2 separate regions of the Homo sapiens genome follow, and region 1 is linked to region 2. Evidence: fine-mapped expression QTL. A gene starts in region 2. The other region holds a variant in brackets. All regions are shown on one strand. Distances are from middle to middle.

Region 1 (5,367 bases), 600 kb before region 2:
GGTGGCTGTGGTCTCATGGTCTTCCCTTTATTAGCTGGGATGTAGAATTTGATTAGATGACTACTGTAGATTGGGGCTAGAAGTCCAGTGCACTATCCATTGTGCCACTGAGCTTGCTCACTAGATAACTTCTATAGAAACCCAATTTCTAGGTCCAGGCAGATGGGGCCCCTGTGTGTGACTGCACAGTGTAGGAGGGTTGTAGAAGGGTGACCGGGTCCAGCCTTCCCAGCGTGGACAGTCTAGTGGAGGACACTGCACATATCCTCCAGGTGACAGCAGTCAGCACCACGGCGAGTGGAGCCACAGCTACAGGCAGGTCTGGGAGGGAGGCTGCAGCTGCCTCGCATCTAATTTAGAGAGTGCCTGTCCCGGAGCTGAGCCTGTGGAAAGGGGAGAGGGTCTGCTTGGGTGAGGGTGGCACCTAGGGGCCGAGGCCAAGAGTGTTGGGACCTCCGCTGTGATTTGTGAAGGTGGCTTGTGGTCTAGAACAAGAGGAAATGAGTGCCAAGGACAGAGAGGAGGAAGGTTGAGGCCAAGGTGGCCCCCTGCCAAGATGCTGCTGGACATCTGCTAGGTTGGGCACTGAAGGTGGAGCCATTTGGACTTGGCCTTTAGTGACTTCAAAGAACCCCGGGCGATGGCTGAGGCTGGGAAGAGGGAGCTATGGAGGGTTGAGGGAGAGCCCCTCTCAAAGACTGGCCTAACTTGAGCGCGTGCAAGGGCACAGGATAGGAAGGGATAGCAGGCGGGCTGTGAGTCCCGAGTCAGACACATGGAGGCCCTGGCTCCAGCTCCCTTTTCTCGGACTGAGGGGGAAAAAAACACCTGTATACAGGTGTAGATGAGGCGCCTCTGTGCCTCACTTCCCATCATCTTGGCCCTCCCCACAACCCCGGCTTCAGACAGGTGTGACTGCAGCACCCTGAGGTAGGTGACCTAGGGGAGCTCAGGAACAGCAGCCTGGAAGTAGCAGGGAGCTCCATCCCCAGGGGCAGCTCTGGGTAATCTGGGTAAGGCAGCCATAGACAGCAGCTCCCCCTCAGCGGCCCCCTGCAGAGACCAGCTCAGAAATGGTCTAGGACTGATTCTCCTTCCCTGCCTCACTTTTTCTGGCCCCCTACTTCTGTTGCCTGGGATTGGTTTCTAAAGCAAACCATTTACCCACAAAGCCTCATCTCAGGCTCTGCTTTTGCGGGGAATCTAGGCCAAGACAGCACCACAGTGAGAATTACAAGGCTCGGGAGAGGCCTGGTGAGGTCCCTGCCAGGCCTGTCCCAGCCTTTCAGCTTATGGGAGGGAGAGATCTTGAGAGCACTTGGTGCTGACACTGCTGGAAAGGCCATAGTACCCACGCCCAACGGGGAGCAGCTGCACTGCTTGGAGGCAGGTGCTGGCTCTCAGAAGCTCCCTTCCCTGCAGCTCCCAAGCACCGTGCTTCCCACGCGCCAAGCACATGCTAGGCACTGACTCTTGGAGCTGACAGGTATTTGAGGCTCTATGCAAATTGCTTGCCTTCTCGACAGATCAGAGGCCATGCCTGGGGCATCATTTGGGCCCAGACTAGCTCATGGATGACCCTGACTTATTCTTTGTTTTGGGGTCTTTTTTTTTTTTTTTTTGAGATTGAATCTTGCTCTGTTGCCCAGGCTGGAGTGCAGTGGCATGATCTCCTCTCTGCAGCAGCCACCTCCCGGGTTCAAGCAATTCTCCTGCCCCAGCCTCCTGAGTAGCTGGGATTACAGGTGCGCACCACCATGCCCAGCTAATTTTTGTATTTTTAGTAGAGATGGGGTTTCACTGGGTTGGCCAGGCTGGTCTCGAACTCCTGACCTCATGTGATCCCCCCACCTTGGCTTCCCAAAGTGTTGGGATTACAGGTGTGAGCCACCACGCCCAGCCGATCCTTTGGTTCTGGGCTGAATGGAACCCACCCCCCAAGAGAGCCCCCCAAGTACACTTTCCTGTTGTCCCAGAAGCAGGAGCACAGTCACAGGCCTTGAAGCATCCGCTTGCCTGCCCGCTCTGCCAGCTCACCCTCCCTTCACCGTTTCCCAACTGCCTGGGTGCTCCGTCAGCACCTGAGGACTCCACAGCGCTCACACCTAAAGCCCTGTTCCCAGAGCTCAGCTGCCCCTGGACCACTCCACCCCCATGCCCATCCGTGCCTCCAAATTACACAAAGTCTGAGACTAAAACCCTTTTCCCCGGCACCTGTTTCTGCATCTTCTGTGGTGTGTGACACTGCTGTGTATCTGGTCGCCAAGTTAGAAGCACTTTGATCGATCACTACTGCCAGGGACAGCACAAGTCCTTCTTCCCACCCGAGGGGGTGCCG[C/T]GGCCTCCTAACTAACCTGCCCCTAATCCCCACCATTCCTCTTGCCTTTTCTCTCCCACCCCCCACCTAATCAGGGACCTCTCCTGTGGAAAGCGGAAAGCATTGCATCTGTCTCCCAGAAAATGCACAGCCCTTCATTCTGCCCTAACCTGACTTCAGGGGTGCGGCCAGGCACCTTCCCTTCAGCTCGGCCTGCCCCGGGCCCAGTCATGCGTCCCCGTCCGTCTCTGGTCCTGACGAACCCCTTCCTCCACCTTCTGCAGGGGGACTGATTCTTGGGGCCTCTACAACTTAAGCCTCATTCTGTGCTGACCTCTTTGTGCTAACTGTAATGAAGTGATTTTAAATTTTTATTTTAGAAATAGTTAACTAGCGTTCCTGGTATAAAAGGCCTACGTGAAGTGTGAGTTTCTCATCCCTGTCCTCTGATCACCTAGTTCTCTCCATAGGCGGCCATTGCTGCCAGTTCCTTGCATATCCCTCAAGGGATGATCACACATTTGCGGGCATGCATGTGTGCACACAAATGACATACTCTACACACTAGCTTTGCCCACCTGACACACTGATAGTCTTCTTAGCCTTCCTGCATCAGCACATATGTCTAAAGTCACTGTGGGCCGGGCGCAGTGGCTCACGCCTGTAATCCCAACACTTTGGGAGGCCAAGGCGGGTGGATTACCTGAGGTCAGGAGTTTGAGACCAGCCTGGCCAACATGGTAAAACCCCATCTCTACTAAAAATACAAAAAAAAATCGCTGGGCATGGTGGTGCACACCTGTAATCCCAGCCACTCGAGAGGCTGAGGCAGGAGAATCACTTGAACCCAGGATGTGGAGGTTGCAGTGAGCCGAGATCGCGCCACTGCACTCCAGCCTGAGTGACAGAGTGAGACTGTGCCTCAAAAAATAAAAAATAAAGCTGCTTCATTCCTTTGTATTGGCTTCATGGTATTCCATTTATGGCGGAAATGATTTATGGAAACCATCGTCAATTGACAGGCACAGAAGTATCCTTTGTAACATCAGCAGAATGGAAATCACGTCACTTCACCTATGTGCCAGTGTAGTTGCAGGATAAATAGAATCTCTGGATGAAAAGATCTGGTTCATTTTTCCATTTGATACGTACTGCTCACTGGCCTTCCAGAGCAGTTGCATCAGTTTCTCCTGTCTGCGTGAACAAGGCCGCTTGTTGCCCCACGCCCTTGCTAACGCTGTGATAATTGCACATTTTGATCTGAGGTGTTTGATAAGCTGTCGGGCTCTCTAGATTGAGCTCCTTGAGGTCAGCACTGTTGTGCTCTAGTTCCCCACAGCTGGGAATAATAGGCACATAGATGTGTAGTAACGGAATAGAGAAATCGGGTGCATTGCGGAGGAAAAATAAACGCCTGCTGGCCCCGTGCTTACGGATCAAAGGCCCTGCCATGGCTTATGAGTGACTCCCAGGGAGTGGGATTCCCAGCTGCCAATTCCTGGGTGTCCAGAGAGGAATTAGCTGAGGCTTAGGGTTTTCTGGGCCTTTTTCTTGTTTATTGAGCTGTCTGCTACTTAGGTATTTATTGCCAAAGGACTAGGGGAAGAAACATTCAAATCTGAAGGCCTGGTGATTGTAGATTTTTTTTTTTTTGAAACAGGGTCTTGCTCTGTCGCCCAGGCTGGAGTGCAGTGGTGGGAGCTTGGCGCATTAGAACCTGCACCTCCCAAGTTCAAGTGATTCTCATGCCTCAGCCTCCCAAGTAGCTGGGACTACAGGCATGCATGCACCACCACGCCCAGTTAACTGTTTTTGTTTTTGTTTTGAGACAGAGTCTCACTTTGTTGCCCAGGCTGGAGTGCAGTGGCGTCATCTTGGGTCACTGCAACCTCCACCTCCCAGGTTCAAGTGATTCTCCTGCCTCAGCCTCCCGAGTAGCTGGGACTATAGGCGAGTGCCGCCACACCTGGCTAATTTTGTATTTTTAGTAGAGACGGGGTTTCTCCATGCTGCCCAGGCTAGTCTTGAACTCCTGACCTCAAGTGATCCACCCACCTCAGCCTCCCAAAGGGTTGAGATTATAGGCGTAAGCCACTGCACCTGGCTGTAGATTTTAAATGAGATTGAATTCCGGATTCTAAGTCCTCCCCCTCCCTCCATTCCTTGGTGCCCTTCTTACCATCCACGCTCCTTAATGGGGAGTTGGCTGGCTGATACATGTGAGGAGATTGGCCAAGTTCTGGCCTGGACAAGCTGAAGACACCTTCCTGCCAAGATGGGGCAGGTAGTGCTTCTCACAACTACACTGGAAGCAGGAAGGGATGGTCCCACCTGCGCAGTCATGGGGAAGGCATCCGGGAGGAAGGGACAGTTGAATAAGGACAGCGGCTCGCCCGGGCAAGGGTGAGTGGCAGCACAGGAGGAACTGGCCCCTTGCAGTCAAGTAGGCTGTTTCCTTGTCAATGGAGGGTATTAGAATTTTGTGTGGTTCAGGCCAGGTGCAGTGGCTCACGCCTGTAATCCCAGCACTTTGGGAGGCTGAGGCGGGTGGATCATGAGGTCTGGAGATCGAGACCATCCTGGCTAACACGGTGAAACCCCATCTGTAGTGGCGGGCGCCTGTAGTCCCAGCTACTCGGGAGGCTGAGGCAGGAGAATGGCGTGCCAAGTTGCTACTACTCCGAAGTAGCTGGGTTTACAGGCGCGCCCCTGCACTCCAGCCTGGGCGACAGTAGGACCCTGTCTCAAAAAACTAAATAAATATATAAATAATTTTAAGTGTGTCTTTTGCTATATAGCAAATTATTTATGTTTTTTAGTAATAATTGCTAGATTTATTGGTGACTGCTTTGCCCCTAAGGACCAAGCATGCATTTCATAATTTAATCTTTATGTTAACCTCACAAGTAGGGACTGTCATTATCTCTGTTCTATAGAAGAGGAAGCCAAGACTTAGAGAAACGTGTCTTGCCCACATCATGCAACTAGCAAGTGCCAGAGCTGGGCCAGAAGCACCTAAAACCGTAGCCCACCTTACAGCCTCTGTCACT
Region 2 (5,367 bases):
GCCAATTCTAACCTCAGTGCAAATGCAACTGGTCCAAAACAAAGGGCAGCCCCTTATCTACCTCATCCTGTCCTCAGCAACATTTCTCTTTTCCAGATCGGGAAACCTGCACGGCCGCTCAGGACTTCTCGATGACTGCACCTTAGAGACCAGAGTGCAGGTTAGCGGGGCTCTCGCTCCATCAGTCAAGTGAGGTCTTCAAACTTCAGGGTGAACTATGGATGTGTTTTTAAGACTCAAGTTTTCACAAAAAAAATCCAAGTTTCAGAAAGAATGGGAGAGTTTCAACAGAACTAAAATATGAGAGCCTCTCTCTAAATAATAAAAATTTTCTTTTTTTTTTTTTTTGGAGACAGTCTCGCTCTGTTGTCCAGGCTGGAGTGCAGTGGTGTGATCTCGGCTCACTGTAACCTGTGCCTCCCGGGTTCAAGGATTCTCCTGCCTCAGCCTCCCGAGTAGCTGGGATTACAAGCGAGCCACCACGCCCAGCTAATTTTTTGTATTTTTAGTAGAGACAGGGTTCCACCATATTGGCCAGGCTGGTCTCAAATTCCCGACCTCAGGTGATCCGCCCACCTCAGCCTCCCAAAGTGCTGGGATTACAGACGTGAGCCACCGCGACCGGCCTAAATAATAGTAATTTTCAACGGAATACATTGGAATCTCATTATAAATGCCTGCTCTGGGCTACGATTTGCTTATCAAAGAATTCACAAGTCATAAACTAGAGGGGGTGGACTCGACGTGATGCCCACTAGGAGAAAGGTGACAAGAGAAGCACGAAGGATAGCGCTTTTCAACCCTGGGAGAGCAGGGAGGCCTTCACCAGAAGGTGGGAACCCACCACGAAGCGCCTTCAGGAGGCCCCAGGATTCCAAACCAATTAAGGGCCTCCTCTTCCGAAAACGGGAGGCGACGCGCTGAGCTAAGCGCGCAGGCTGGGTTGCGGGCCGACACCGAGGCGGCGCGGCCTCGCGACCGCCCTGGGCGGTCACTGGCGAGTCACGGACTCGTTCCGCCAGCGGCCAATCCACCCCGAGTCCGAAACAGAAGACGTCCCTGGGATGAAAGACCCAGGCCTGGGGCTTAAGGTGGAAAAACAACTCATTCCTCGAGGCCCGGAGTCGGGCGTCCCGGGAGAACGGGAAAGGGAGATGAGCGCCCGCTGCGGGGAGAACGCGGTCGGGTTCCTCTCCCCGAAGGTGGCAGCCGCAAAAACACGGCCTCGAAAGCAGTTTCGAGGACGATGGCTCCTGCGTCCCGGGAGTCGCCATGACGCCGCGGCCTGTCCCAGACCCGGCGAGGGAGGGGACCAACCACCATCTCCCCCTCAAGGCCCAAACCGACAAAGAACGGCCCCCGGTACCCCGGCCCCGCCACCAGGGCCACTCCGGGTCTCGCGAGACCCAAGGGCTGCGCCGCGAAGACCTCTGGGAAAGGCGGGGGGAGGGGAGAGGAAGGAAGCGAGACCGGGGCTGGAGGCGGGCCGAGGCCGCGAGTTGAGCCTCAGGAAGCAGAAGGGGCGCGGAAAGATGCGATTGACGTCGCAAGCGAACCAATGACGAGCGAGCTGTGGCAGGCCTCCAGCCAATGGGCAGTGAGGCCTGACGCGGGGGGCGGACGCTGGGGCCGAGGGTAGCTTGAGCGCGGCGGCGGCGTTGTTCAGTCAGAGCGAGAACATTCCAGAGGTGAGTCCGGTGAAGGGGCGGCCCCCTGCCCGGTGCTTCCCGCCCCCTCGACCCCTCGGGCCGCTGGCTGGCGGGGAAGGTGCACTCCCCGACCGCCCACGGCTCACGGCGCCGTCTCTCCGCGCCAGGTCGCCCAGCTCCGGCGCTGACGGGTGTGGACCGCGGACGTCGCTGGGACAGCCCCTCCCCGCTGCTCGGCGGCGGCACCTGGCCCGGCCGCTCCTCGCTGCGCTTCGCCTCCGCCTCCTCGGACTCGGACTCGGGTTTATATCGCGCCTCACTTCATCCCAGTCCCGGGCGAGCAGCGTTGGGTTTATGTCTTTATTTGACGAAAACGGTGAGTCGCGGGCGCGGCGGGCCAGGAGATGGCGGCCGCACAAGATGGCGGCGGCCGCCGCGTGACCCCGCCGCGGCGTGTGGCGCAGTTTGGGCGGACGGCGGGCGGGCGCGGGCCCGGGCGCCGGCCGCCCCCTCCCCGCGCGCTCCCCGGCCCGGCCTCGCCCCCTCCCCGGCATGGCGGGAGCGCGTCGCGCGTGCCCGCCGCTCGGGCTGACTCAGGCTTCAGCTGCTGCATTTGTGAGTCATCGCGCGCTCTGGGGCGGGGGCGGCCCGATCCCGGCACCCCTCGGCCGTGTGTCGCTTCCCGGCTGTGCACCCTCCGGGGCCGCCGGCTCTCGGGGGACGCGCTGGGGATGGGGCCAGACGCCCCGGTCGCGCGCCCCCCTCCTTCGCGGAGCTGCCCGGTTCGCCAGCCCCCGCGGAAACGCCTCGGAGCGCGGTAGCCATGGGGACCAGGGCGAAGGTTAACCGAGTATTTGAATAGCGAGGAAAAGGGAGGCCGGGGCGAGCCTGGCGTTCGCTCGCGCTCTCTTGCTTAATGGCAAATTGTGGGCGAGCGCTGCGTTTAAGGAAGTGCTGCTTTGAAGTAAGCCATGGTTGCCGAAGCAACGATTAGTTGTAGAGAACAGTTCCCTAGGTTGCCCTTAAAAATGAAGACGAACGGGGGTGTGCCTGAGAAGTTTGCTTATCCAGGCGGGGTGGGCGGCGGAGAGGGCTCGGGTTCGTTCTTCAGCACTTCCAGGATGGCCGCAGAGGCAAACCTGCTGATTGCCCTCGGTCTGATGGAATCTCACGGCGGCTGAGGCAGCACAGCTTGTGTTTTCTTGTCAGGCATTTCCCTACCAGTCACAGCTTAGTCGAAATGGAGGCCTTTTTATGTTCCCGCAGATTGTACTGTGTTACATGAGAATGGCTGTTTGCATGTGATCTCAGATGCTTTTTAAGGTGGAGTTAAGCAGAAGCATAACTAGGATGTAAAAAGGAGGCGTTTCCATCCAGCGATGATGTTAAACCTGGGGGGATTTTTGTGTGTTCTTTCCCTTTTTCTTTCAGAGCTGTTGCGCAGCCATTGGTACCTGTATTGGGGAAACATAGCATACAAGCAAGAAGCTTACAGCCTCAGTGGCGAAAATTTTTTCATGTCAGAGACCGAGAACTCTTGCAGTCGTTTATGTCATCCCTTCTTCTCCAGACAGAAGATACCAAAAAGTTGCAATCAAAGATCTCTTCATCTTATTGATAAAGCCACTAATAAGCCAAAATGTCTGTCAATGTCAACCGCAGCGTGTCAGACCAGTTCTATCGCTACAAGATGCCCCGTCTGATTGCCAAGGTAATAAACTGCTCTTCAATTTAGTTGATAGCTCTTTTTGTAGAATTTTGAAGTTTGCATTTGTCAGGGGAAACTGCACAACTAAAATTCTTATTTCCTTTAGGTTGAGGGCAAAGGCAATGGAATCAAGACAGTTATAGTCAACATGGTTGACGTTGCAAAGGCGCTTAATCGGCCTCCAACGTGTAAGTAAAGCTTGGAAAAGTCCACAGGGCATATTATGGATAGAGTCTTCAAAGTCTTTGAGCTGCAAAACTTGTTCTAATTGTATGCTAGCTAATTACCTTACAAGTTAAGTGAGGAACCGTGGTTTATTGGTTGCCATGAGTTTACAAAACTACCAGGGGAACGCATTTAAAGAGTGGATGGCTGGGCGCGTTGGCTCACACCTGTAACCCCCAGCACTTTGGAAGGCTGAGGCAAGCGGATCGCGAGGTCAGGAGTTCTAGACCAGCCTAGCCAACATAGTGAAATCCTGAGTCTACTACTAATACAAAAATTAGCCAGGCGTGGTGGCATGCGCTTGTAGTCCCAGCTACTTGGGAGGCTGAAGGGGGAGAATCGCTTGAACCCCGGAAACGGAGGTTGCAGTGAGCTGAGACCACGCCGTTGCACTCCAGCCTGGGTGACAGAGTGAGACTCTTGTCTCAAAAAAAAAAAAAAAGTGGTGTTCGTACAAATGTGAGTGAGTAGCCAGAGATCTAGTTAACTGTAACGATCCAAACTCCTTTTTCATTCAAATAGATCCCACCAAATATTTTGGTTGTGAGCTGGGAGCACAGACCCAGTTTGATGTTAAGAATGACCGTTACATTGTCAATGGATCTCATGAGGCGAATAAGCTGCAAGACATGTTGGATGGATTCATTAAAAAATTTGTTCTCTGTCCTGAATGTGAGAATCCTGAAACAGATTTGGTAAGTGCTTTTGTGGTTGTCGAAAGAAAAAGCCATATACCTGCTTCTGTGATACCGCTAAGTCACCTTCCTGAGAAGGCAGAGCAAATGTAATTTTAAATCAAACACAAAACTCCAGTTTTCGAGATATTTCCATTCTTTTTTTTAAAGTAGGTCACTGTGTGAAAAAAGTTTTCTTTGCATGTGAAGCTGTCTGTGGTTTAGATGTCCTCTGATTAGATATTTTCATGTTATATTATGGATAACATTTGTTATTTTTTTGGCAGCATGTCAATCCAAAGAAGCAAACAATAGGTAATTCTTGTAAAGCCTGTGGCTATCGAGGCATGCTTGACACACATCATAAACTCTGCACATTCATTCTCAAAAACCCACCTGGTGAGTCTTCCATGATGAACTCCTAAGATCCTAAGATAAGTTACTAACTGTTGGGAACAAAATAGAAGGTTTTTTTGTAATAGGAATGTAAGGGAGACTGGGCACGGTGGCTCATGCTTGTATTCCCCGCATTTTGGGAGGCCAGGGCGGGCACATCACTTGAGGCCAGGAGTTCAAGACCAGCCTGGCCAACATAGTGAAACCCGTCTACTAAAAACACAAAAACTAGCTTAGCATGGTGGTGTGCTCCTGTAATCCCAGCTACTCCGGTAGCTGAGGCATGAGCGTCGCTTGAACCTTGGAGGCAGAGGTTGCACTGAGCTGAGATCGTGCCACTGCACTCCAGCTTGGGCAACAGCGACTCTGTCTCAAAAAAACAATATAAGGAACCTTTTAGTCCTTGTACTATATTTTATCAAATCTAAGACATCTTTCAAAAGTGTATTGTTAATTACCATTAAAGGTGAAAAATAGGCTGCCAATTAAACTGTGCCATATCAATTAAGACATTATCTGAGGGTAGATGAAGTAATGACTAAAATTCTGCTGGAAACCCAGCAAAGTTTCTTTTACTGGCATTGTTTGGTAAAGAGGGCCCCCTTCATTAAACTTGAATATTGCAAGCAACACTCTGTGGCAGATGATCAAAACTGTCTGACACAATTTGAGCTTGCTATAGCAAGAAAGTCTAACCTATTCCGGTGTTCTCTCT

What was found. PIP is the estimated chance that this variant, and not a neighbour inherited with it, causes the effect.
Region 1: its variant is fine-mapped to the expression of EIF5-DT in nucleus accumbens (GTEx, PIP 0.96).

What each region holds. Positions count from the first base shown.
Region 1 is chr14:102,731,041-102,736,407 of GRCh38, forward strand. No RefSeq gene overlaps it. Among named protein-coding and RNA genes, the nearest start is that of TRAF3, 44 kb to the right of the region's middle. The variant C/T (reference allele first, on the strand shown) is at 2,339.
Region 2 is chr14:103,332,573-103,337,939 of GRCh38, forward strand. EIF5-DT (EIF5 divergent transcript) reads right to left here and starts at 2,088. Exons shown (of 1, transcript NR_158216.2): 1 at 1-2,088. EIF5 (eukaryotic translation initiation factor 5) reads left to right here and starts at 1,665. Exons shown (of 12, transcript NM_001969.5): 1 at 1,665-1,688; 2 at 1,817-2,025; 3 at 3,081-3,360; 4 at 3,464-3,545; 5 at 4,105-4,277; 6 at 4,544-4,655. The coding sequence starts at 3,289. It overlaps SNORA28 (small nucleolar RNA, H/ACA box 28), which reads left to right and starts at 5,277; the gene lies at 5,277-5,367. RefSeq lists an enhancer at 1,121-1,240 and silencers at 1,561-1,980, 2,121-2,170, 2,281-2,520.